Regions from separate parts of the Homo sapiens genome. Here regions 2, 3 and 4 are each linked to region 1. The links come from fine-mapping of genetic effects on gene expression. A gene starts in region 1. Each other region holds a variant in brackets. All regions are shown on one strand. Distances are from middle to middle. Region 1 holds the start of GUF1 (GTP binding elongation factor GUF1). Region 2 overlaps GUF1 (GTP binding elongation factor GUF1). Region 3 has its middle 55 kb from the start of GNPDA2. Region 4 has its middle 16 kb from the start of KCTD8.

The links. PIP is the estimated chance that this variant, and not a neighbour inherited with it, causes the effect. A credible set is the group of variants that fine-mapping cannot tell apart.
Region 2: its variant is the best candidate, but not a certain one, in a credible set for the expression of GUF1 in whole blood (TOPMed, PIP 0.76).
Region 3: its variant is the best candidate, but not a certain one, in a credible set for the expression of GUF1 in adrenal gland (GTEx, PIP 0.77).
Region 4: its variant is the best candidate, but not a certain one, in a credible set for the expression of GUF1 in whole blood (TOPMed, PIP 0.86).

Annotation. Positions count from the first base shown.
Region 1 is chr4:44,675,452-44,680,451 of GRCh38, forward strand. GUF1 (GTP binding elongation factor GUF1) reads left to right here and starts at 2,969. Exons shown (of 17, transcript NM_021927.3): 1 at 2,969-3,336; 2 at 4,990-5,000. The coding sequence starts at 3,172. RefSeq lists an enhancer at 2,188-3,076 and a silencer at 3,148-3,307.
Region 2 is chr4:44,700,171-44,706,539 of GRCh38, forward strand. GUF1 (GTP binding elongation factor GUF1) reads left to right here. Exons shown (of 17, transcript NM_021927.3): 17 at 1-758. GNPDA2 (glucosamine-6-phosphate deaminase 2) reads right to left here. Exons shown (of 7, transcript NM_138335.3): 7 at 1,625-2,972. The coding sequence ends at 2,911. Among named protein-coding and RNA genes, the nearest start is that of GNPDA2, 23 kb to the right of the region's middle. The variant G/A (reference allele first, on the strand shown) is at 3,408.
Region 3 is chr4:44,778,543-44,784,911 of GRCh38, forward strand. No RefSeq gene overlaps it. Among named protein-coding and RNA genes, the nearest start is that of GNPDA2, 55 kb to the left of the region's middle. The variant TA/T (reference allele first, on the strand shown) is at 2,712.
Region 4 is chr4:44,462,026-44,468,394 of GRCh38, forward strand. No RefSeq gene overlaps it. Among named protein-coding and RNA genes, the nearest start is that of KCTD8, 16 kb to the left of the region's middle. The variant T/C (reference allele first, on the strand shown) is at 3,711.

The DNA.
Region 1 (5,000 bases):
GTGTTTTTCCGCATTTGTATCCTTGCTCAGCTGAGCCGAGTTTACTGGAGTGGTTAAGGGTGCAGGCTCTACAGCTGGACTGTGTGGACTCACAGCCCTAGTTCATCACTAACTGTGACTCTAGACAGTTATTTAAAAAACGTTGGCCACATTTTTCTTGGAAATCTATGAAACAGAGATAATAAGAGTGCCAGCAATAGAGGGCTCTGTGAAGATCGAATGAATTGATACAAAGTATGTAGAATAGTACTGGGAACTGAGAAAATGTGTTATGCTGTTGATTATTCCTCTGCTTAAGTTCCATTTATTTCCTTGGATAAAAACAAAAAACTGCCTATCCTTCGAAGCACATGAAAGATACCTCCTCTTTGAAGTTCAGTCACTATACCTCCTGCTTCTTCTCAAGTTGAATAATAAAGAAACTTGTGCAAAGATATTGCAAGAGATGAGCTTTAGTTTCCAAAAATTTGGATTCAAATTTTTTTTTGCATTTATCTATCATGTAATTTATCTATCATGTAATTTTAGACATTTTGCTTAATTTGTTTGAGTTTCCACAGCTAGTATATAACCTGACACAGTGGAGCTCAGTATTTTTCTAACAAATATGTTTTTCCATTTGTAGGCTGGGAAACATAATGTCAGCCTTATAAGATACTGCAGTTTTCTAAAGTGTGGGACAAATTCCTGTGGAGGCACCAAGATAGATACAGACATGGTATCAAGGATACTGTGTTATTCAGATAAAGTTTTTCTTTCAACCCTATTTAAATGCTTCTTGCTAGGTCAAAGAGAAAAATCTCAGTTTGAGGCTAATATTTTTAAATTCTTTTCTAATATCTGCTAATCTCCCTTTTGTAATCCAGACAGACCAAACCTACAATTGAATCACATTTTTTATTCACTACAGTTATATTTACTGTTACTCTTATGACAGCTCATCATGCTTTCTCCATTAATGGTATCTACGTTTTCTTTTAAAAAGAATTCATTTACATATAAAGGTAAGTTAAAGAAAAATATAAAGTACATAATATCGGTATGAGGATTGACAAAGATTCTTGACCAAACTCTAGCCTGACTCTTCTAAGCCCTCTTATCAGCAAAGCCTCAAACTTGCCTATAAAAACTACAGACCCTCAGCACAAATGATTTCATCCACATCCTTCCCCTACCGGTTTGCCCACACATTAAAAGACTTGAACAAACTCATATAGTTTATAACAGCTCAAGGCTGCATCTCTAAGATGAAGCCCCCTTAAATTTCTGTCTGAGAAAGCTCAAGACTGACAAAATAATTTATTTGTTCCAGCCAACATGTGAAAGTAGCACTCATTTCCTAGTGTCTGCGGGAAGGGTAGGAGCCTTATTTCCATAAGCAACAGTTTACAACCCAGATGGATTTCAAATGGACCATTCTTCCGCCATTGTTTTTTGTAAATTTCCGTTTCCCTGACTTTGATCAAGCCCAGTTGTTCTCTTTCCCTACTCCCGCATTCTCCTTTTAAAATACAGTCGCCTCTGGACAAATTGTAGTTTAGTTCATTCTGGATCTTATTCCCGATTGCATTAGTATATCACTATAATAAAAATCTGTCTTCACCACTTTAACTGGTGTCTGCCTTTATCTTTGACAGGATATGGTGAAAATTAATGAGGGTAATTGTGCAAATTATGGAAGTCTGGGCAACATTGAATATAAATTATTGTGTTTACTTCAAGATAGTTGTTAAATTCATTCTCTTACAAGTGTGACAGAATTAGTCGTCTATCAAGTACTGTTTTAATTCATAAAAGTTCCAAGAAAGGGCCAGGCGCGGTGGCTCACGCCTGTAATCGCAACACTTTGGGAGGCCGAGGTGGGCAGATCACGAGGTCAGGAGTTCGAGATCAGCGTGACCAACATGGTGAAACCCCGTCTCTACTAAAAATACAAAAATTAGCCATGATTGCTGGCGCGCGCCTGTAATCCCAGCTACTCAGGAGACTGAGGCAGGAGAATCGCTTGAGCCCAGGAGGCGGAGGTTGCAGTGAGCCGAGATAGCGCTACTGTACTCCAGCCTGGGCGACAGAGCGAGACACCATCTCAGGGGGGAAAAAAAAATCCAAGAAAGAACTGAGTCTGGTACAGAATTCTTGATCCTAAGAAATCCTCCAAATGAAGAAACTTTCAAAGGCTCTGGAAACAATACGAATGATTCTGTCTTCAGTCACAATGATGAACTGAACACAGCTGTCATCTCCCTCCTTCGCACCAAATTCTGGATATTCCAGAAAAGCGCAAGAGAAATAGTGGGAGACAAACACTGGATGCAATCCTCCTATCACCTGTTTTATCCCCCATTCTTACTTCGTCAGAGCTCATTCCATGAAGTGGTAACTTGATGACGATGGAAACATTGGGGGTCCAGCATGGAACTTTTTCCCACCTTTACTTCTTGCCAAAACCTTCCTGGATTCAGTATTGCAATCAATGTTATGGCCCGTTTCCTTTCAGATGCACTTCAAGATTAGCTCTGTCACTGACAACATGGGGAATACATTTCGACCTCCAGATTTTAAAAGTGCCATTATTATTTTGCCATTAGGTAGAAGGCTAAGTCTCAACGTTGTGCTAATAATAGCATCTTTAAGTCCCTGGACTAAGACCTCGGCTCCTGGTTCGGGAATCAGACTGCCTGGGCGGCACTCCAGGCTCCACAGCTCCCCACCTGTGAGCTCCTGGGCAAGTCACTCGGTCCGGATTTCCAGAGGTAGTTTGGGGGAACTGACAGTACACACACCACAGGGCAGTAGTAAGAAAGAGACAATGCAAAGGAATTGGCACAGCACTCAGCAGACAATATAAGCTAATATGTACTCTGTCTACACCCTGCGTTTTAGGGAGTCAATCGAAAGCCTCCACTCACGTGACCACTCCACTACCCGGCGCCAAGACGCGCTGATGTCACGACAGCGTGCGGCGTGCAGACGTCGGCAAGCTGCGCCGCCGCTTCGGGTTGCTTCCGGATCTGGTACTTGGGCAGAGCTCCCCGGGGTTCATTGTCTTCGCTTCACAGGATCTGTTTGAGTCCTGTCCACCGGATCCTACGGGGGGTACCTTCGAAAAAAAACGGGCTATGCTGCTGTTGCGTGTGGGTACCCTCTCCTGACGCCTCCGCCGCCCGGGTCATGTGGACCCTCGTGGGTCGGGGCTGGGGGTGCGCACGCGCTCTCGCGCCACGAGCCACTGGGGCCGCGCTTCTGGTGGCCCCGGGGCCCCGGTCCGCGCCGACCCTTGGGGCTGCTCCAGAGTCCTGGGCTACCGACAGGCTCTACAGCTCCGCAGAATTCAAGGTGACTGCCCCCTGGAATCTGATTTAGCCAAGTTTTCAAACGTTGGAGTGCCCCATGCGATCTTGGACATGTATAGGGCTTTCTGGGACTAGCTCTGAACCCTGCTTGCAACTTGGTACAGGGAGGCAGAGCGGAGAGTGTGAGCACTGCTCAGGTTCCCGACCCTCCACTCCTCACTAGTGTGACCTTGGGCAAGTCACTAACTTTGTAGGTTTTCTCATTTTCAATGTCAAATGTTGATTTGTTTACGCGAGCCACTGGTCGAAGTGCTTTGCGTTTATTCATCTATTTAATTCTAAAAAGCCTACTAAGCAAGTTGCTAGTAAATATTAATATAACGTCCATTTTCCTGCAAATTAAGTAGCTATGTGGCCTGGGCAAGTTACTACATTGTCACTCTCCTACTTCATTTGTTGAATGCAGAACTGATCAAACATCCAGTGGCTAATTTGTGAGATTTGTGTGATGTGAGAAGTGGACTTTTTTAGACTAATACCTAGAATGCAGGAAGTTCTCGGTCTGTCTTTGTAGTTTTATTTCATTCTACCTCAGCCAGAGCAAACCTGTGTAATTTTGACTCTGGTGGGAGAGGGTGGGAGGTTCAACAACTCTGATAATTGTGAATGGATACATTTTAGTCAGAAAAGTGAAGTGACTGAAGGCAAGCTATAAGTAGGCAGAAAGACAAAACCTTAAATTAATCAACTTTGGCCCTAATATGCCTGTGTTTTTAAAAATGGATTTATATTGCAATTCGAAGTATAAAGATGGTGCAATTCTCTATACCTTTTGAACTGAAGGGAAAGAAAATCTACAGGGCAAACATCAGAATTAGTTTTTTTTCGGCAGACTTTCAGCTATAATTGTGCTTTTATTATCTGTCTTTATGGGGCTATTAAAAAACAAAGCTCACGTGAATTTTATATTTCATTGTAATTTCATGGTTTTGCTGATTGTGAAATATGCAGTTGATTGGAAAAAAATAGAGTACAAAAAACTGGTATATTTTGCTTGATAACAATTTCTAGCAATTTGTGATGTGTTTCAGTAAAACGTTAAAGAAGATGTGTACACGAAAAACCAGGAGTTCCATTTTAAAATATTTTTAAGTTTTAAGTGATAAGTCTTTTGTTGGATGTCATCTTTTTTTCTTTCTCACCAGAGAAGCTGCAAAGTAGCAAAATTGTATTTAAAATAAAATTTTGAGGCTCCATTAGAGACACAGATTTTTAAATAAATCTGATTCCTGATTAAATGTGTGATAGGAGCAGAAAATTTATCTTCTTTCAGCTTTTCTGTAGCTCCATTGCCTCAAAAGTTTTACTAGACAAGGTATTCTCAGGCCTTTAGAAGTTCTAGGTGTCTCATGTTCTCCATTCACGATAATAAATTCAGTTCCTGATTGGCCCTAAAAATTGTGTAGAAATGTTAAGGGATTATGATTTAGCTGTATAGTTACCTTTGGCTATTAAACTGATGTTCCTTGTAATATGAACTTAGCCATACATGTCTTTTTCTTAGAATAATAATATAAACAATATAAATGCTAGAAATGATATTGTTCAACGATTAAAAGAATATTCTTTGAATTGGTATACTTGTTTGATAGTATGCCAAATTTATACTCCTAAATGTGGTATTTCCCCTTTCTAGGAAAAACTTGA
Region 2 (6,369 bases), 25 kb after region 1:
CCACTAAGCCAAAGGGAAGTCAAGCTGGGAACTGATTGAGGCAAACCTGCCTCCCATTTTATTCCTAAATAAGACAGCCACAAAGATAAAATTTGCTCACAAGGGAATTCCTTATGGACAAAGAACTCAAAGTCTTCACATGAAACAAATGCATAAATGATTGCTTTCTCTGTTTCATGTTTCACTAAGCCAGATTAAGGTATAACTGACTATTCCTCTACTCTCCTCTCACATGTAAATTGTATATTCAGTGAAAGGCTAATCAGAAACTCAAAAAAATGCAACCCTTTCTCTCTTACCTGCCTATGCTTGAAGCCCCCGCCCCTCTTCAAGTTGTCCTGCCTTTCAAGACCAATGTACACCTTACACATACTGATTGATGTCTCATGTCTCTCTAAAATGTGTAAAACCAAGCTGTGCCCCAACCACCTTGGGCACATGTGGTGAGGACCTCCTGAGGCTGTGTCATGGGCACACCTTAACCCTGGGAAAATAAACTTTCTAAACTGACTTGAGAGCTGTCTCAGATATTTTGAGCTTACAGTTATTGTGAAATCATTTTAATTATAAATTAAGTGGAGATTTACTTAAAATCATGTGTAGAAGTAGCCTGTGATATAGTCCTAGATACATACATTATCATCTTATGTATCTTCCCTCCCTCTTCCAGGTTCTGATAAAAACAGATGAAATCTGAAAGACCATGACAGTAGTATTTTGAAAATGACAGTATTTGAAATTAAAAAATTGTAAAAGTGTTCTGTTCTATCACTGCCAAAGGATAAGTTACAAATTGGTTCTTGGAACGTAATATGTACTATGTGCTTGCTATTTAATAATTTACCAGTCTTAGTCTTTTTTATTCAGACTAATTTTACCTTTTTTTAACCTATGACTCTTTAGTTATAGTAGTACAAAAAAGTAGTTTTAGTTATAGTTTTAGTTGTAGTACAAAAAAGCATTTTCTGTAAGCTTAATTTCTTTCCCCTTCCCGCTTTCCCAGTCAGATGACTTTAGTGATTTGGAGTTGTGTGCTTTATAAGTGCATTCCTCAGAGGACTTAATATTACTAAGATTTTAGCAAACACTGAAATATGTTTAAACACTGTTATCAATATTAAAATAGCACCGTTTATTGACTTTAATATGTGACAACCACTGTGCTGAGCTATGTATGCTTCCCTTATTCAATCTATGTAAAAATTTTGGGGAAGTAGCTGAGACTTTTTTATTTCCCTGACAGAGCTGGGATTCAGTGGTTGGTTTCTTGAAAAAGCTAGGTTCTTTGCCTAACAGCAGCTTAGCTCCTCAATTTAGGGAATGAAAGCAGGAATGAAAATGGCCAGAGTTTTCGCTCCTCAGCTTGTGGAGGAGCTTGAGTACATGAACCTCAACTAAGCCCCTAACATCAAGGGAAGGAAAATGGAAAGGAGAATTTTTAGACCTTTAAAGCAGAGAAATTACTGGTGAATCATGTAGCACAACAGGTACCTTTAGCTTTTTCACTGTGATGCTGTATGACTTTCTAAGGTAGTCAGCATAGTTTGTAGTAAATGATTCTTATTACTGGAAGTGTAAGTGGAGTGTTACTCACTAGTTATTTAAAAAACATTTATAAGGCTATTAAAACATCATCTGGAATTAAAGCAGCATAATTTACCCCATCCCCCACTTTTAACCATAAAACCCTATTACCAATTTTATTTCATTAATTTATTTGCTATTTTAATATTTTAAGAAACTACATTTTAATCACATAGACAAGCAGATAAGTAAGGCTTCTTCTACCAGGTGGGCTTATGAAATGCAAAATAAGCAAAAGGAGCATTTTTTTGCTCCCCACAGAGGCAAAGACATCTTTTAACCTAACTCTCCTAATGCATGATGGTAACAAACCCAAAATGAATGCAGGTTCACATGTACTATAATTGTTGGGAGTCGAATGCATGTATTCTTCAGGTTCACTTCTGGAAATTTAGATAACTTATTTATTACACGCTTTATTTGAGTTAAAGATAAAAAACAATATACTTTTATGTAAATTGCTATGGCAATGTAGTTTACAGTAATTCCTTTTATATATACTTCGTATTATTCTTTTAGACATTTTATAAGGAATAAAGCTAATTGTATATTAAGTTTAACAATAATCAGAAAATATTCTCCAAAAGAATTTCCTGAAGTGGCTTGCTAGGTATAAAGCTCATAATTGTCAAGATACTTATATTAGGGACATGAACCCAAGTCGTTAAATAAAAATAAGATATTTGTAAAAAAGTGCTATAGAAGAAGGTGCACAAAAAACATGCACTTACACATACTTTCCAAAAGGATGTAAACTGTACTTTTAGGCACTGTCATCTCTTCAAATTTCCTTTACCAATGATATATAGCACAATTTTTGATGTCTAGATGGTGCTGTAGGAAGATGACTAAGGCAACCACGTGCAGAAAAGCATGTGTGTGATGCACAGAAAATATAAAGATTGCATTCCAAAAGTGAAGGTCTGCAATGATAGTTTGTTATCTGAAAGGTTTGGAGTGTCTTGTCATTAAAAAATGAAATATACGCCACTGGAGTCATATCACAAATGGTGCCTGATGTGGACACTCTACCTTTAAAATGACTTTTTAAACAGGCAGACATTTCTATGCTGTTTTATAGGTGGCTATGTGACTTCAGTACTTTATAATAAATAGCCAGTCAATCTTGAGAGCCAGCTACTTCTCTTAAACCCAAGTACAAGATATAAATATTCAAAATATGGAATGTTTAACATAGAGACTCGAATGAAAAAATGACAATCTTCAAAATTCCCCATGTTTTGTCATATTGCATAGCTGAAAATTCATCTACTACTTAGTAAAAAGTGCTCTGTTCATTCAAGCTGAATTTTGCTCCAGTCTCCTTCAGTTTCCATCTTTCATACTGAATAGTGGATCCACAAGTTTATTGTGCACATGCATTAGACCTTAAAGAAAAAAAGCACAGTTCTAGTTGTTTTTATTAATTTTGAACTATCTCATTTACTTTAGACAACAAAGTATTTTTTATAAGACACAGTAAGCCTGTTTAGTTCCCATCTTGATATAGTCAAGTTTATTGAAAAAGTACAAATAGAAATGTTTCAGAATGTCTTAAGTTTTATCTACCTAGCAAATACCAATTTATAATTATGTAACAGTGCAGATCTAGAATGTGTACAGGTACTTTGGGAGTAACCAGAAGAGCATTTCTTGTCTTCAAAGAGATTAAGCATGACAAATTTGAATACTGACTTAGATAATAGGTTTTAATTATATCTAAAAGTCTATGTTGATATTGATCCTCTGGCAGTTCCTCTACTAGACTCCAGCCAGGGGCTCAGAACTGCTGTCTCACTCTTAATACATTACCCTATCCATTC[G/A]TCTGGTAAATTACTTTCCAATAGTTTGGCATGTGTATTTATGACAAAGGTTGATTACAAATTCTACACTGAGGGAGGGTTACTAAAACAAGACAGAAAACAACCTGTATTAAATCATTTAATTCAGAATAGAAATTACGATTTTAAATCCGGTAGATTATAACTTTCATTTTGTAATTGGTACATATACTTGCAGACTGCTCTTAGCTATGGAAGCTGCTTGGGAAATAGCTGATCTTCCAGTTACTCCTGTTTTAATGCCTCAGTACTATATTTCTTTGGGGAGAAAAAAGTTCTAAAAAGACTGACCCAGTTAATGAACCAGAGATTTTATATTTTGGAGGGTAAAGAAATGAGTTAAGTTTTCCAGGTATTAAGAACATGGGAGGGTGGGGAAAGGCACTTAATGCGGTTTTGCAGGAAATGGGATTACTGGATTGGAGAGATAGGTTGCTTGTTAGTAAACAGATGTTCCTTGTCAGAAAGGCTGCAAAAAGGACTCTAAAATCCCAGCTTTGAGAAAGACCCACTTTTAAGGGACAAGCAAAGAGTACTGGGAAGTGTTTGTGTAGTAGGAGAAATTCTAACCATAAGAATGGGACTCTAAAGGAGGGAAGGGGGAAGCATTCCATTCACTAGTCCTGCAACTGCTCAACAGCCTACTTGAAGGTCACCTGAAACTTCATGTCCAGTAGGAGAGGGGACAACAAAGATAAGGGTAATATCAGCTGTATGATTTAGAAGATGCAACATTTTCCAGAGTATCACTTTGTAGAGGATCGTTTTTCTACTTAAATAGTATTCATCTGTCATTTGCTAACAACTTTGATTACGGAAAGAATACACAGAGCTTTAAAATACATGCAAATTAAAATATCAGTAAATATTAAAAATTCAACTCCTTTATAAAATTTTTTTCTTTACATTGGATATATCTTTTATACATCAAATAGGACTGCTTCCAAACTAGAAATAATTATTTTGAAAATTCTATTAATTGCTTTTTAGATATTAAGTCAAATATTTACTGTGACTTTAGGTAAAAACTGACAACTTTCTACATACGAATTTTATATAAATAAATAATTGCTACTTAAGTCAAACAGAAATAATTCTTCTGATAAAAATGCACCAGACTTCCTGAAACGTTACCAGAAGAAAGGTTAAATGTCACAGATTCTAACCAATGTCTATACAAAGTAACTTTTATGGTTTTGACTCAAAATGAACTCATTCTACCTTTGTCAAACTACTGAGGTGGAGCCTAAATACAAAGTAAGAGAAAAAAATTCATGATGATGATGTCATATACTAAAAATCAAAGCTGTTCTATTTAAAAAGCAAAAATGAAAAGCGAGAATGAATAAAACAAATCCCCACGTACTAAACTTGTTGTCTTGTGATTAACTTGTATCTTTCAAAAGGTATATACCGTTATATAGGTATATATTGAAATAAACTTGCATTTACTGACAATTTTTATTGTTTTGGATCTAGTTAACCTAGATCTTATCTAGGCACTAAATAAAACCCTTTAAGATTCTGGTCAGCACTTTTTAGTGATGACAGAAGAAAGGGTAGTGATGTGAATGGAATTTGAAGAGTTATGGATGACAATTATAGGAATTTACATCCTCCAGTATTTTGATATACTAGTAACTCAATGGAGGTATGAAAAGTATACAAACTACATTTGAAATGTGTTTATTTAAGAATATTCAATTTCTCTACCCTTTACTAAAATGCTGTAAAATGAGGCCCATATGTAGCCCAGAATGTCTAAATTCTGTCTTCATATTGAAGGAGGTATCCTAACAGGCTGATACCCTGAAACCTCTTCAGAAATACAGACAGCTCCAAAGTGGAAAATACTGTGTCCTCTTGATGCAGTGCAGCTATCCTCTCACGAATGGTCTGTTTCAAAATTTTTCAGAAGAGCTTACAATTAGATGAACTAAAAGAACTAAATACATATAAACATCTACCACCCTTCTATTTTAAATTATCTAACATATGTCGATATACCTTTTTTGGAAGCAGTGATTATCATATGGGAAAAAAGCAGATGGAAATATGGTTTTGATGTAGATGGTATCATACCTAGAGTTTATTCTGGGAGGCAGTATAATAGAATAGACAAAAGCCTGCATACTCCAGAGATCAGCCTGATTTTGATTTCTATTACCCAGCTCTGCCCAAATATGTGCTGTATGACTTTGGGTAAGTAGCTTAACGTCTCTGTCTGTTAAGCCTATTAATTTAAAAATGGGACTATGAATACCCATTTCATAACATTTTTGTGATAAGTAAATCAATAAGTAAAATGCATTTAGAATAGTGCCTGGTCATAGAGATACTGGCTGTTATTAAATATCTTATTAAATATTCACCAAGATATAAAAATCTGATAAAAACCTAATTGTGACAAAATTAGATTAGTACAGGGATTTATCTGGGACTTAATGAGGACTAGAAAATGGCCATGTTAAATGAATCTCCTTAAAACTGGAATTAAAATTTGTGGATAGTGAGGATTCCTTGTAGTCAAGGAATCTATTATTTGGGATGAAATCTGAAGGGTTACATGGGAAAATAGAGTTAAAACTCCATCAAATGCTCTTTTATTCACAAATCAGAAATTTTTCAGTTTTTCAGTTTTTCAGTTTGATATATTTGTGGCTTGGTAAATTAGTAATTTAAATGGTAAAAATATAAATGACTAGAAATAATCTAAGTGTTAATAAGGAAATGTTTAAATAAATTATGATTTATGTACTTAACTATCCATTAAAATGCTTCCAAATATTTAGTAAAACAGGAAAATGCTCATGAAACATAAGTACAAATACAAAACTATATACAAAGCATGATCAGCATTTTGTTTAAAAATAGACTATTTTCAGTGCTTGCCAAATGTCAGTTATTTGTATAACACCTTCAAGATATTTGCCATATTCACACA
Region 3 (6,369 bases), 100 kb after region 1:
ATATTTGCTATTTATATTATATTATCTAATACCTACCTATTGTGTTATTGGTTAAAAATTTCTTCAGAAATCATCTCCCCATTCATTCATATAGTTGCAGTGAGAATTGAACTATTATTGTTATGTAATTTTATTCATTTCCATGGTTGATAGGGCCAGAGATGAGACCATTTGAGTAACTGAGGCCATTCCCTGGAAATACAGGTGAAAATGGAAGTCATTTTTTCCTTGGTTCCAAGATTGTAATACAGGAGTCCCATGCATTATTGGTTGGTTGTTTTATTGCATGGACAGTGAAGGAAATGAAGCTTGTCTGTGGAGAGGTCATAAAACAGGGAGATCTATAGAGAGACACATGAAAGAGACGGACAAACGAACTGATCAGTGGAGCTCATTGTTCCAATTCTTTCCTGATGTTTAAAGCTTAAATTCTTTCATCTTTCCTTATCTACTCTTGAGGCCTCCTGGATAGATGCTCTTGTGCATTTTTCTGTCTTGAAGGTGATCTGCTATGGAATCTCACTCTAGCATCTCACTTTTCTCAGAGACGAACCTTGCTTTTGGTTAAACCTCTATTAACTATCCATTAATTCTATCAGTTGCTTGCTCTTGGAAAATTGATCTGACAAACTTATTCATAGTGAGTTGTTAATAGACCAATGTATTTTCACATATCTGGTAAATCAGAATTTTCCAGAAAGATATTACAATTTTCTATTACTTTGTTATACCAGTTATTTCAGAGAACTTGAGGCTGACTGAGCAAAATGTGAACCCTTGATAGAATCTGGACTGGCTTCTTCCTAATTTGTCATTTTTCATCTCTACCATCTCTCTCTCTGGACTTGCTGCCTCTTTCTCTGTGCCTCCTCTGTGTCACTGCTTTCCTCAGCTGCCTGTATGTGGCCCATTTGAGGTGATGGGGGCCTATACACAAAGCTGACAAGTAACTTCCATATTTTGTCAAAAATTTAAAAATCAACTCCACTTGAACTCTATGGAGCTTCCTACTTACCATGATAAAAATAAATCAGAAAAACAAAAACATTCCCTGGCTACAGGGACTTGGCGTTATAACAGACATATCAAATTCACATGCATAATCTCTGGCCACATCTCCTACCATCCATTTCTCTCCTACTCAGAGCCAACCTGCTAAGCAGGTTCTTCCCTCAGAAATGTATATGGCTTACCCACTGCATTTGTTTTCTAGGGATGCTATAATAAAGTACCACAAAATAGGTGACTGAGAACAGCAGAAATTTATTTTGTCACAGTTTCAGAGGTCAGAAGTCCAAAGTCAAGTGTTGGCAGTGTGGCTCTTTTTGGAGACCCATTCCAAGCATCTCTCCTAGTTTCTGGTGTCTTCCAGCAAGCCTTGGCTTGTAGATGTGTCACTCTAATCTCTGCCTCCATCTTCATATCACCTTCTTTTGTGTCTCTGTGTCTCCCCATCTCCTTCTCTATTCTCTTATAAGAATATCAGTCATAGGGTAGAGAGCCCACCCTAATCCAGGATAATCTCATCTTGAGAATTTTAACTTAATTATGTCTACAAAGACCTTATTTCTAAATAAAGTCATATTCCTAGGTAGCAGGGTAGGACTTGGACATAACTTTTTTTGGGGGAGGAGGCACTGTCAACCCACTATACCTCTCCTCCTCACTCTTATCATATCTTCATTTAAATGCCATCACAAAAAGAGCTTCCCTGACCATGCTATAAAAAATAAACTCTCATGCCTTACTTAATAACAAACCTCCTCACTCTGTGTCTACTTATAGCTTGCTATGGCCTAACACAACTGCATGATACAATTCAATTATAGCTCCACTGCTAACCAACATAATCTTTCAGTATCCCCTCTTCAATTTGTTGACAGAGAAAAAAATCTAATTCGTAAATGTATTCATTTTTTCCTGGCCATGACTCATGTGCAAACAGGTGGATTGGCTACCCTGATATCAGGTACTCACTCTTGGTCCAGTTCCAGTGACTGGAAGTATGGATTTATATGAGGAAACCAGGGTCATGTAGGTATATAACAGAGAAATTCTCTTAGCAGAAGAACTAGGCATGTATAATATTATAATTATGTAACTTTTTTTTCCCCTGAGATAGGGTCTTGCTCTGTCATCCAGGCTGGAGTGCATTGGCATGAACACCGCCCACTGCAGCCTTAACCTCCTGGGCTTAAGTGATCTTCCCACCTCAGTGCCCCTACCCCCACCCCCCTGCTAGTAGCTGGGACTATAGGCACATGCCACCACACCTGGCTAAGTTTCTAATTGTTGGAGAGGGGTCTTGCCATGTTGCTCAGGCTGGTCTTGAACTCCTGGGCTCAAGCAACCCTCCCACCTTGGCCTCCCAAAATGTTGGGGTTACAGGTGTAAGCCACCATACCCAGCCTTGTTTTGACTTCTTTAGTGAAGTCCAGTTTAAATTAACTACAAAATGAGATGAAAAGATTTATCATTTTTCTTACTTAACAGGTGACAATAAATTCCTTCCCCTCTCTGTTCCCCCATCCCTCCTTTCTTTCCTTCCTTCCCTTATAGATATGTACACGCACACACACACACACAAACACACACAGTCTGTAAAGTTGCAGTTAGTGAATTTTAGTTTTTCAGAGTTAACCATGCAATAAACCAATGTTGTGGTCTCTAGTGTTTACTCGGCTGTTTGTAGGCTGGTTTCATCTTATTAT[TA/T]TTTTTTTTTTGTATTTGCCTTATCTTTCTTCATCAGAAAATATTTGGGGATAGCACAATAGAAAGAATATTTGGAGACCAGAAACTTAGATTTTCTGACTACCACCAATTAGCTGTGTCTGATTTATATTTATATCTGATAAATATTTACATTTAATATCAACAGGAGGGAAATTTGATGAGTCTAATATGTAAAATGTATGTTTATAAAATTGATCAATTGCTCCAATATGAACCACTGTGGGTCCAAACTTTTGAGTAGCAATCCAAAAATGAATAAATTTTTAGTCAAATAATTTATAACTTCTAGAAAATTAAGGAGAAATTTTGGCTTCAAAGAAGAATAACTTTTTTTTTCTTTCTACTGATATGAAGAAACTATTCCTTCCATGAGTCCTCATGGAGAGGCACTATATAAATGCAATAAAACGCTTCTTAGTTACATCCTGAAATTAACTACAGTAGTGGTTTCTGTAATGATTAAGGGAATGGCATCTTAAATTGGGTTCAAATTTTCCTACCACCATTTATAAGATGAATGGGCTTGAGAAAATTCTTTGTTGGTTTAGTTTCCTCATTGTTAAAATATTGAAAACAGTAGGGTATAACTCAAGTTTTTTTTTTTTTTTTTGTGAATAGTAAATGAAATCTGATGCACGATTCTTTTTGTTGTTGTTGTTGTTGTTGTTGAGATGGAGTCTCGCTCTGTTGCCAGGCTGGAGTGGTGTAGTGGGTGCGATCTCGGCTCACTGCAGCCTCTGCCTCCCGGGTTCAAGTGATTCTCCTGCCTCAGCCTCCTGAGTAGCTGGGACTCTAGGCATGTGCCACTATGCCAAGCTGAGTTTTGTATTTTTAGTAGAGATGAGATTTCACCCATGTTGGCCGGGAAGGTCTTGATCTCCTGACCTCGTGATCCACCTGCCTTGGCCTCTCAAAGTGCTGGAATTACAGGTGTGAGCCACCGCTCCCGGCTGCATATGATTCTTAGAATGGTGCTGGGCACATAGTCAACACAAAATATTAAGCTATGCCTGTTACTGAAATGCAATTTATTATTTTAAAAAATTCTCAAAAAATAATGATAGCCTAATGTCAAATTGAATTTCTTTCACAGTAAGTTTTTGGTCAAGCCAAAAGTTTCAGAGTTCTTTGACAATCATACTTAACCCAATGAGATATTTCATAGTAGATGAATGAGTTTATCTGTTCTTCAGATAAGAATTTACCTATTCAGATAATCATCTATAAATAGTTTCATTCAACATAGTTTGTGAGAAGTATTGATCAGTATTGATTTTGTGGTTATACTCTGACAAGTACTTGGAGTACAGGCATTCTGAGTTGTTGATTAAATGTAAAACTAGTGTTTGATATTTGAAAGGAGTAAAAAAAGATTTAAAAGCGAGAAACTTGATAAAGACACATCTTATAGAAACACTCTTTTTCTGCATGGAGTTGGGCTGAGGCTACCTGTGGGAAATATTAGTGTTATTGTTAAAATGTAATCTGAGGCTTGACCCAGTATCTAAATGAATGTGCAATTGAAACTCACAAATTTTAAATCAGAGAGCAGACGTGCAATAATTTTACCTTGGAAAGTTTTGAAAGCAGGTGTAAACAAATGCTCACCTCAGCCATAAATAAAAACTCAGTGAAATATTTATAGAATCTTTAACCTTGAGCAATATTCCTTTCTTGTAGATGCTCCAAATGTATGCCAAACTAACTGAATGGATTTAATGTATGGTGCAGATTTATTGATTAAGGACCATTTAAGAGTTAGAGAATATATATCCAAAACAATCATTTTAGTTACAGAATATTTTATGGTACAATTTATGTTTGAAATTACTTTGGTGGCTATCTGTAGAAGATTGTTTGAAGGCAATAGTGAAATCAAGATGTGGCGGTTAATTTTATATGTTAAGTTGACAGGGCTAAAGAATGCCCAGACAGCTGGTAAAACATTATTTCTTGGTGTTAATATGAAGGAATTTTTGGAAGATATTAGCATTTGAATAAGTAGATTAAGAAAGTGGCCCTCACCAATGTAGATGGGCATAATCCAATCCATTGAAAGTCCAAACAAAATTAAAAAATAGAGAAAAGACAAATTTGCTCTCTCTACTTGAACAGGGTCATCCATCTTCTCCTGTCTACAAACATTGGCTTTCCTCATTCTTGGGCCTTAGATTCGAACCATAACTTACACCATCAGATCCCTGGTTCTCAGGTCTTCAGGCTTGGTCTGAAACTATACCACTGGCTTTCATGGCCTACCAGCTTGCAGATGGCAGATAGTGGGACATCTCAGCCTCCATAATTGTGCAACCCAATTCCTAATAAATGAATATATTCCTCTATATCTATAGGTATCCTATGTGGTCTATTTCTCTGAAGAACCTGACTAATATACAGAGATAAATTAGGCTGCTATAGCAGGAGTATAGGTGAGATGCTTATGGCTGAACGTGAATCAGTTCAAGGATTTGTGAAAGCTCCTAATAGGACACCTACATGATTCATACCCAATCTTAATATTCATATCTGCAGGTTTAGCTAATTCTGCCAAGGCATATGGGGAATAAAAGTTAAATACAGTTAAAAAGATATTTTATATTTTAGCAGTGGATATATGCCTTGACAGAAGAAATGTACATTTTAAAACAAACCATACATACCTTTCCAGGGAACTGAACAGGAATCAGAAAGAAAAATTTTCAGTGACATGAGCTAGGTGACAGTTCCTCTGTAGTTGACACAGATAAGAATGGCCAAACTAGCCCTCTTTTTTGCTAATTCTATCTCTGAATGCTGAAGATATAAAAGTCCACAAGACTCTGAAAGTGAATAGATGATTCCTCTGAAGTCCAAGTCTCTTTCTGGAAAATAATATTAGTTAAAAAAAAAACATGTTCTTTGAACGTCACATTTTAGGGAATCTATTATACTAAAATTAGGAAACTTCTGAATCCATATATTTATAGTGACAACCTGGCAATATTAAGAGGTATTGCAAATACAGATCACTCTCTCAAAGCAGATGAGGTCATGTGTGCAAAAGTATTAATTTTAAATTTAGAAGTTTATCAAGAACTATGAAGGATCTGAGATTTTTATTCTACCTGTAAATTAACAAGTTAGCTTGCCACTGTTTCACGGATGTCACCAGCAGACATGGAATTTTATTTTTGTTCAAAGACAAAGGATTGTATTACCCTTGGCACAGCAGGTAGCATGAATTTCAAGTTTCATTTTTCCCCTTGCTCTTACCCACACTAAGCCCCACAGGAGCAATGTATAGATGGGTCAAGGTGGATGCTGTGCCCACTGTGTTAGTATCACAGCTGAGAAACCTCATGCTTAGGAAACCCCAATGTATTATAAGATGGCTGAAAGCAAACTTGACCAATCTTTGCTCTGAAAGGAGACATTATTTTTATTATATTGCACAGAAAACAGACCTGCACTCTGCCTCAGAGGTAGATAATATCTCCATCTTCCATGGGTCCTTGCTATCCAAACATCCTTCAAAAGATAGTCCAGAAAAATATCTGCTAGTAACACTGCTTACAAGACATAGGGAAATATGAGAAAGTCATGGAGAATTTTATTCCAACAGTGTTCAGAAAGAAAACCACACAAAGAGTATTCAAA
Region 4 (6,369 bases), 210 kb before region 1:
CTACTGGTTAAAAAGAAAAAAGATAAGGGGGAGGAGTTAGTGACAACTAGATGGACAGTGATATCATTTATACATCTTCACATACTCAGTGGCAACAATGACTGTATTTTATTCCTGCATAGCATGTGCCAGGCACTGTTGTAAGCACTTTGGATATAATAAGCCATTTAATCCTCACAGGAATCCTCTAAGTATTCTTATCATCTCCACTCAGAATTAAACTGATGCACAGTAAATTAGATGACTTGACAAAGTTCACACAGCTAGCAAATGGTGCAGTCAGCCAAGGGATCAGATACATGGGGCACAGTCCAGGAACATTTCATCCCTGGAGCTTCCAGTTGCCCTCTCCTAGTAGAGTCAGGGACAGTATCAACATTCCCAGCATCAGGGTATGAGAATATACACAGAGTATTGGCAAATAGGGAAGCTCCTCTGACACTCAGCATCCAGAGTTTCATTGGAACTTAGTCATATACACATGGTTGGCTGCCCAAGTGACTGATCTCAGTCTCCAGACCCTCTCAAGTTTCAGCTGATCCCATATGACTCAGAGCCCCCTTATGAATGATATTATTATACTGTCTGTGACATAGTTTGGCTCTGTGTCCCCACTCAAATCTGATCTCGAATTGTAATCCCCATGTGTGAAGGGAGGGACATGGTGGGAGGTGATTGGATCATGGGGATGGTTCCCTCATGCTGTTCTTATGATAGGGAGTTCTTACAAGATCCGATGGTTTAAAAGTGGCATTTTCCTCTGGCTCTCTCTCTCTCCTGCTGCCGTGTAAGACATGCCTTGCTTCCCATTTGCCTTCTGCCATGATTTTAAGTTTCCCAAGGCTTCCCCAGCCATGCAGAACTGTGAGTCAATTACATCTCTTTTATTTACAAATTACCTGGTCTCAGGTAGTATCTTAATAGCCATACAAAACTGGACTAATACATCTCCTATAGCCCAGGACTTTCAGGTAAACGAAAATACTCTTAACAGGCAAGACATTACAAGGGCTTAGATAACCTCCTAAGAGCCGAATAAGATAACCTCCCAAGAGCTGAACACAAAGGCCAAACTTCTCTTTGGGCAAGATTAAATTCCTTACTACACACAGGTGAAATTAATAATACATTTTATTTAGCTCAATATATCCAAAACATTATCATTTCAACATATGATCAATATAAAACATTATTAAAATAGCTTATATTTTTTCTGTACTAAGCCTGTGAAATGCTGTGGATATTTTACCTTTACAGCACATCTCAACTTGGACTAGCCACATTTAAAGTGCTTTGTAGCTGCATCAGGCTAGTTGGTAGTCTACCAATGAATGCAGCTCCATTCTTTCCTTATTCTTGCTGAATCTAACAAAGGTTTATATATTTATCCTGTGGGCATAATTATCAGTGTTTTCTAATATATTTATTTATTATTTTAAGTAATAATAAGAATTACTATTAGGTAATTTCTTATCACATTTAAAACTAATGTTTAAAATAGAATATGCTTTTCAAAAACCAAAACAAATCAACATCAACGAATAATCTTTTTACCCTCCCATTTGAAGTCCGAGTTTCTATTCCTTATCTATACAGTCTTTGCTTCTTTGATGTACTTTCATTACTTTTAGATTGAATTTCACCTTATTCTTAAAGTGACAATTTACATGTTTAATGATCTTCCTCTTGTCACTTATAATTCAATTTTCTATTTTCAGTGAGCCTGATTTTTGTGTGGGATATAATGTCTCTTCTCTTCTGATTGCATCTTAGGCAATGCAATGCAATTTGGACAAGACTTCAGGGAATCTCCCAGTTATTATTTTTTTGTGTGTGCAAATCCTCCCCTTACTAAAAGGGATGTTTGACATAATTTATTTTTATCTTAGTCTGAAGACATTTCAAGAAGTTTTTGAAAACCTTAAAAATATCTAAACCCTTCCTAATTTACCACAAAAACTGACCTGGAAGCTCTATTATCTATTACAGAAAATATTTTTTCCAGTATTCTCCAGTTGCAGTGCAGCACTTCAAAATGTACATTTAAACTACATTTTAGAAACACATTATAGAATAATATGTGTTATTTAGAATGGCTTTGTATATGAACATAATTAAAAGAGCATTTTAAAAGGCACTTTAATAGTAGCTATTGAAATGCCAAGCTGTAAAGGTCAGAGTCTGTCTACAAGTGCCTTAACACGCCTTCTTAGCCTCCTCTCTTCATCTGTCGCATGACCTCCTGTGGTGGTGGAGCACATTGTGGGCTGAGATGCACCTTAATTATTTTAGATTCATCCTTTCTTTATTAAAGTTTTACAATATTACAGTCTCATATTTTCCCCTTGTCTTCTCCCTTCAATGGTCTTAGAATCATACTGTTTCTACCCTGCATAATAGGTACCTCTCCATCACAGAAGCCATTTCGTTTGAAGTTGATGCTGTATCTTTTTTTGTTGTTGCTTTAGTGCCCTTTCTGTCTGTCATCATGGTCCTGCTTTTTATTGAGTGTATCTAACATAGATTCTTCCTACCTAAACATGGAGGAGAGAGATTTTAATTAATTCATTAATTTTGGTCTAGATATTAGCCCCCTTTGCCTAGAAAATTAGTGCTTTTTTTAAAATAAGGAAGGGCTGCATTTCCTCATGAGTGTGTGTGTGTGTGTGTGTATGTGTGTGTGTGTGTGTGTGTGTTTATATGTGTGTGAATTGATATCCCAGAAATATATCAAAACCTTTTAAAGTTCTTCCCATTTTCTTAACCATTGACATATCTGTTAAGCAACAGATATGCTGCTTCTTTAGTTAGGACTTTTAAGCTCTTTGTCCTCATGAGGTGAAAATGTTATGTGTTTCTGTCTTTGTCCCTTGGTCTTCTAACATTTATGAATGAATAATCAGTGCTGCTTGATATAGCTGGAATTCTTGCTTTTTCCTACTAAAACACTGAGTTACTTTTTCTCCCTTAAATGTTACCTTAAGGGTTTCCTTTCCCTTTAAGGCCATAAGTAATTCTTTAAACAATTATATGATTTGTTGAATTAGAATATAACTTCAAAATAAACTGTATTTTACTGTAAATTAGTAATCTATCAACGGATTTTACCACCAACCAAATCAGTATCTTGACCACATATACGTGAAACAGAGCTAGGTGAATTTATAACTGATACATCTCTAGTTACAAATATCCCTGGACAATTAGTGGCAACTATAAGCAACTGTATGCCCAAATTGGAAAATCTAGAAGAAATGAACAAATTTCTAGACACATATAACCTACCTAGATTGAACCATGAATAAATCCAAAACCTGAACAGACCAATAACAAGTAACAAGATCAAAGCCATAATAAAAATTCTCCCAGTAAACAAAACCCTGGGACCCAAAGGCTTCACTGCTGAATTATACCATTTAAAGAAGAACTAATACCAATCCTACTCAAACTATTTTGAAAAATAGAAGAGAAGCAGATACATTCAAACTTATTCTACAAAGCCACTATTACCCTAATAACAAAACCAGACACAGACACATCAAAAAAAGAAAACTACTGGCCAATATTTCTGATGACTTTTGATTCATAAGTCTTCAGCAAAGTACTGGCAAGCCAAATCCAGTGATACATTAAAAAGGTCATTTATCATGACCAAGTGAGATTTATCCATGGGATGCAAGGATGGTTCAACATATGCAAATCAATCAGTG[T/C]GATACATCATATCAACAGAATGAAGGATAAAAACCATAAGATCATTTCAATTGATGCTGAAAAAGCATTTGATAAAATTCAACATTTCTTCGTGTTAAAAACCCTCAAAAAACTGTGTATAAAGGAATTTACCTCAACATAATAAAAGTCATAAATTACATACACATAGCTAGTATCATACTGAATGGGAAAAAATGAAAGCATTTACTTTAAGATCTGAAACATAACAAGGATGCTCACTTTCACCACTGTTATCCAACATAGTACTGGAAGCCCTAGCTAGAACAATCAGACAACAGAAAGAAATAAAAGGCATCCAAATTGGAAAGGAAGAAGTCAAATAATCCCTGTTTGCTTGTATATTATCCTTGATGATATGATCTTATATTTGAAAAAAGCCTAAAGATGCCACCAAAAAATTTTTAGAACTGATAAATTCAGTAAAGTGGCAGGATGCAAAATCAATGTACAAAATTTAGTTGTGTTTCTATATGCCAACAGGGATCAATCTGAAAAAAGATATAAAAAAGTAATACCATTTACAATAGCCACAAATAAAATTAAATACCTGGAAATTAATTTAACCAAGGAAGTGAAAGCTTTCTATAATGAAAACTATACAACATGGATGAAAGAAATTGAAGAAGACACCAAATAAATGGAAATACACTCTATGTTCATGGATTGGAAGAATTAATACTGTTAAAATGTCTATACTACCCAAAGCAATATACAGATTCAATGTAATCTCTATCAAAATACCAATGATATTTTTCACAGAAATAGAAAAAATATGCTAAAATATATATGGAACCCCAGAAGACCCAGAATAGCCAAATCTATCCTAAGCCAAAAGAACACAAATGGAGGAATCACATTACCTGACTTCAAATTATACTACAGAGCTATAGTAATCAAAACGGCATGACACTGTCATAAAAACAGACATCAAGACCAATGGAACAAAATAGAGAACCAAGAAACAAATCCATGAACCTACAGTGAACTCAAGAACAAAGGTGCCAAGAACATATACTGGGGAAAAGATAGTCTTTTCAATAAATATTGTGGGAAAATTGGATATCCATATGCAGAAGAATGAAACTTAATCCCTATCTCTAGCATTATACAAAAATAAAATACAAATGGATTAAAGACTTAAATCTAAGACCTCAAACTATGAAACTACTCCAAGAAAACACTGGTGAAACTCTCCAGGATATTGGTGTGGGCAAAGATTTCTTCAGTAATACCCCACAAGCACAGACAACCAAAGCAAAAATGGACAAATGAGATCACATAAAGTTGAAAAGCTTCTGCAAAGCAAAGGAAACAATAAACAAAGTGAAGAGACAACCCACTTTATCAGAGAGAATATTTGCAAACTGCTAATCTGACAAAGTATTAATAACTAGAATATATAAGAAGCTAAAACAAACTCTGTAGGAAAAAAATAACAATCCAATTTTAAAATAAGCAAAAGGTTTGAATAGACATTTCTCAATAGAAGGCACAGATGGCAGACAGATGAAAAGGTGCTCAACATCACAGATCATCAGAGAAATGCAAAACAAAATGACAGTGAGATATCATCTCACCCTAGTTCAAATGGCTTATATCCAAAAGACAGGCAATAACAAACGGTAGAGAAGATGTGGAGAAAAGGGAATCCTCATTTACTGTTGGTGGAAATGTAAATTAGTACAACCACTATGGAGAACAGTTTGGAGGTCCTGTGAAAAACTAAAAATAGAGCTGTCATATGCTCCAGCAATTCCACTGCTGGGTATATACCCCAAAGAAAGAAAATCAGTATATCAAAGAGGCATCTGTACTCCCATGTCTTTTGCAGCACTGTTCACAATAGCCAAGATTTAGAAGCAACCCAAGCATCCATCAACAGATGAATGGATAAAGAAAATATGGTACTTATACACAATGGGATACTATTTGACCATAAAAAACAATGAGATTCAGCCATTTGTAACAACATGAATGGAACTGGAGGTCATTATGTTAAATAAAATAAGCCAGGCACAGAAAGACAAACATCTCATATTCTCATTTATCTGTAGGATCTAAAAATCAAGACAATTTAACCTATGGAGATAAGAGTGCAGAAGAATGGTTACCAGAGGCTGGGAAGGATAGTGGGAAAGTCGAGGGAGGTGAGAATGGTTAATGGGTACAAAAAAAATTAGAAAGAATGACTAAGACCTAGTATTTGATAGCACAACAGGGTGAGTGTAGTCAAAAATAATCTAATTGTCCATTTTAAAATAACTAAAAGGGTATAATTGAATTGCTTGTAGCACAAAGGCTTTTTTCCCTTGAGGGGATGGATACCCCATTTTACATGATATGATTGTTATGCATTACATGCCGGTGTACAAACATTACGTGTACCTCATATATACACTTCCTATGTACCCACAAAAACTAAAATATAAAAACATTTTTGACCAACAAATATCCATGAACACTTATAGAAATGTGAATTAGAAAGCTGTATCTTTCTGGAAAATACTCCTAACATTATGACGTATTTAAATAAACAAAAAGTGAATAAATAAAAAGGGTCACTTAGTAGCTAGAAGGTATAGCCAAACTAAAAATTTAATCAAACAAATTTAAAAACCAGAAATTCTGTGTTGATGG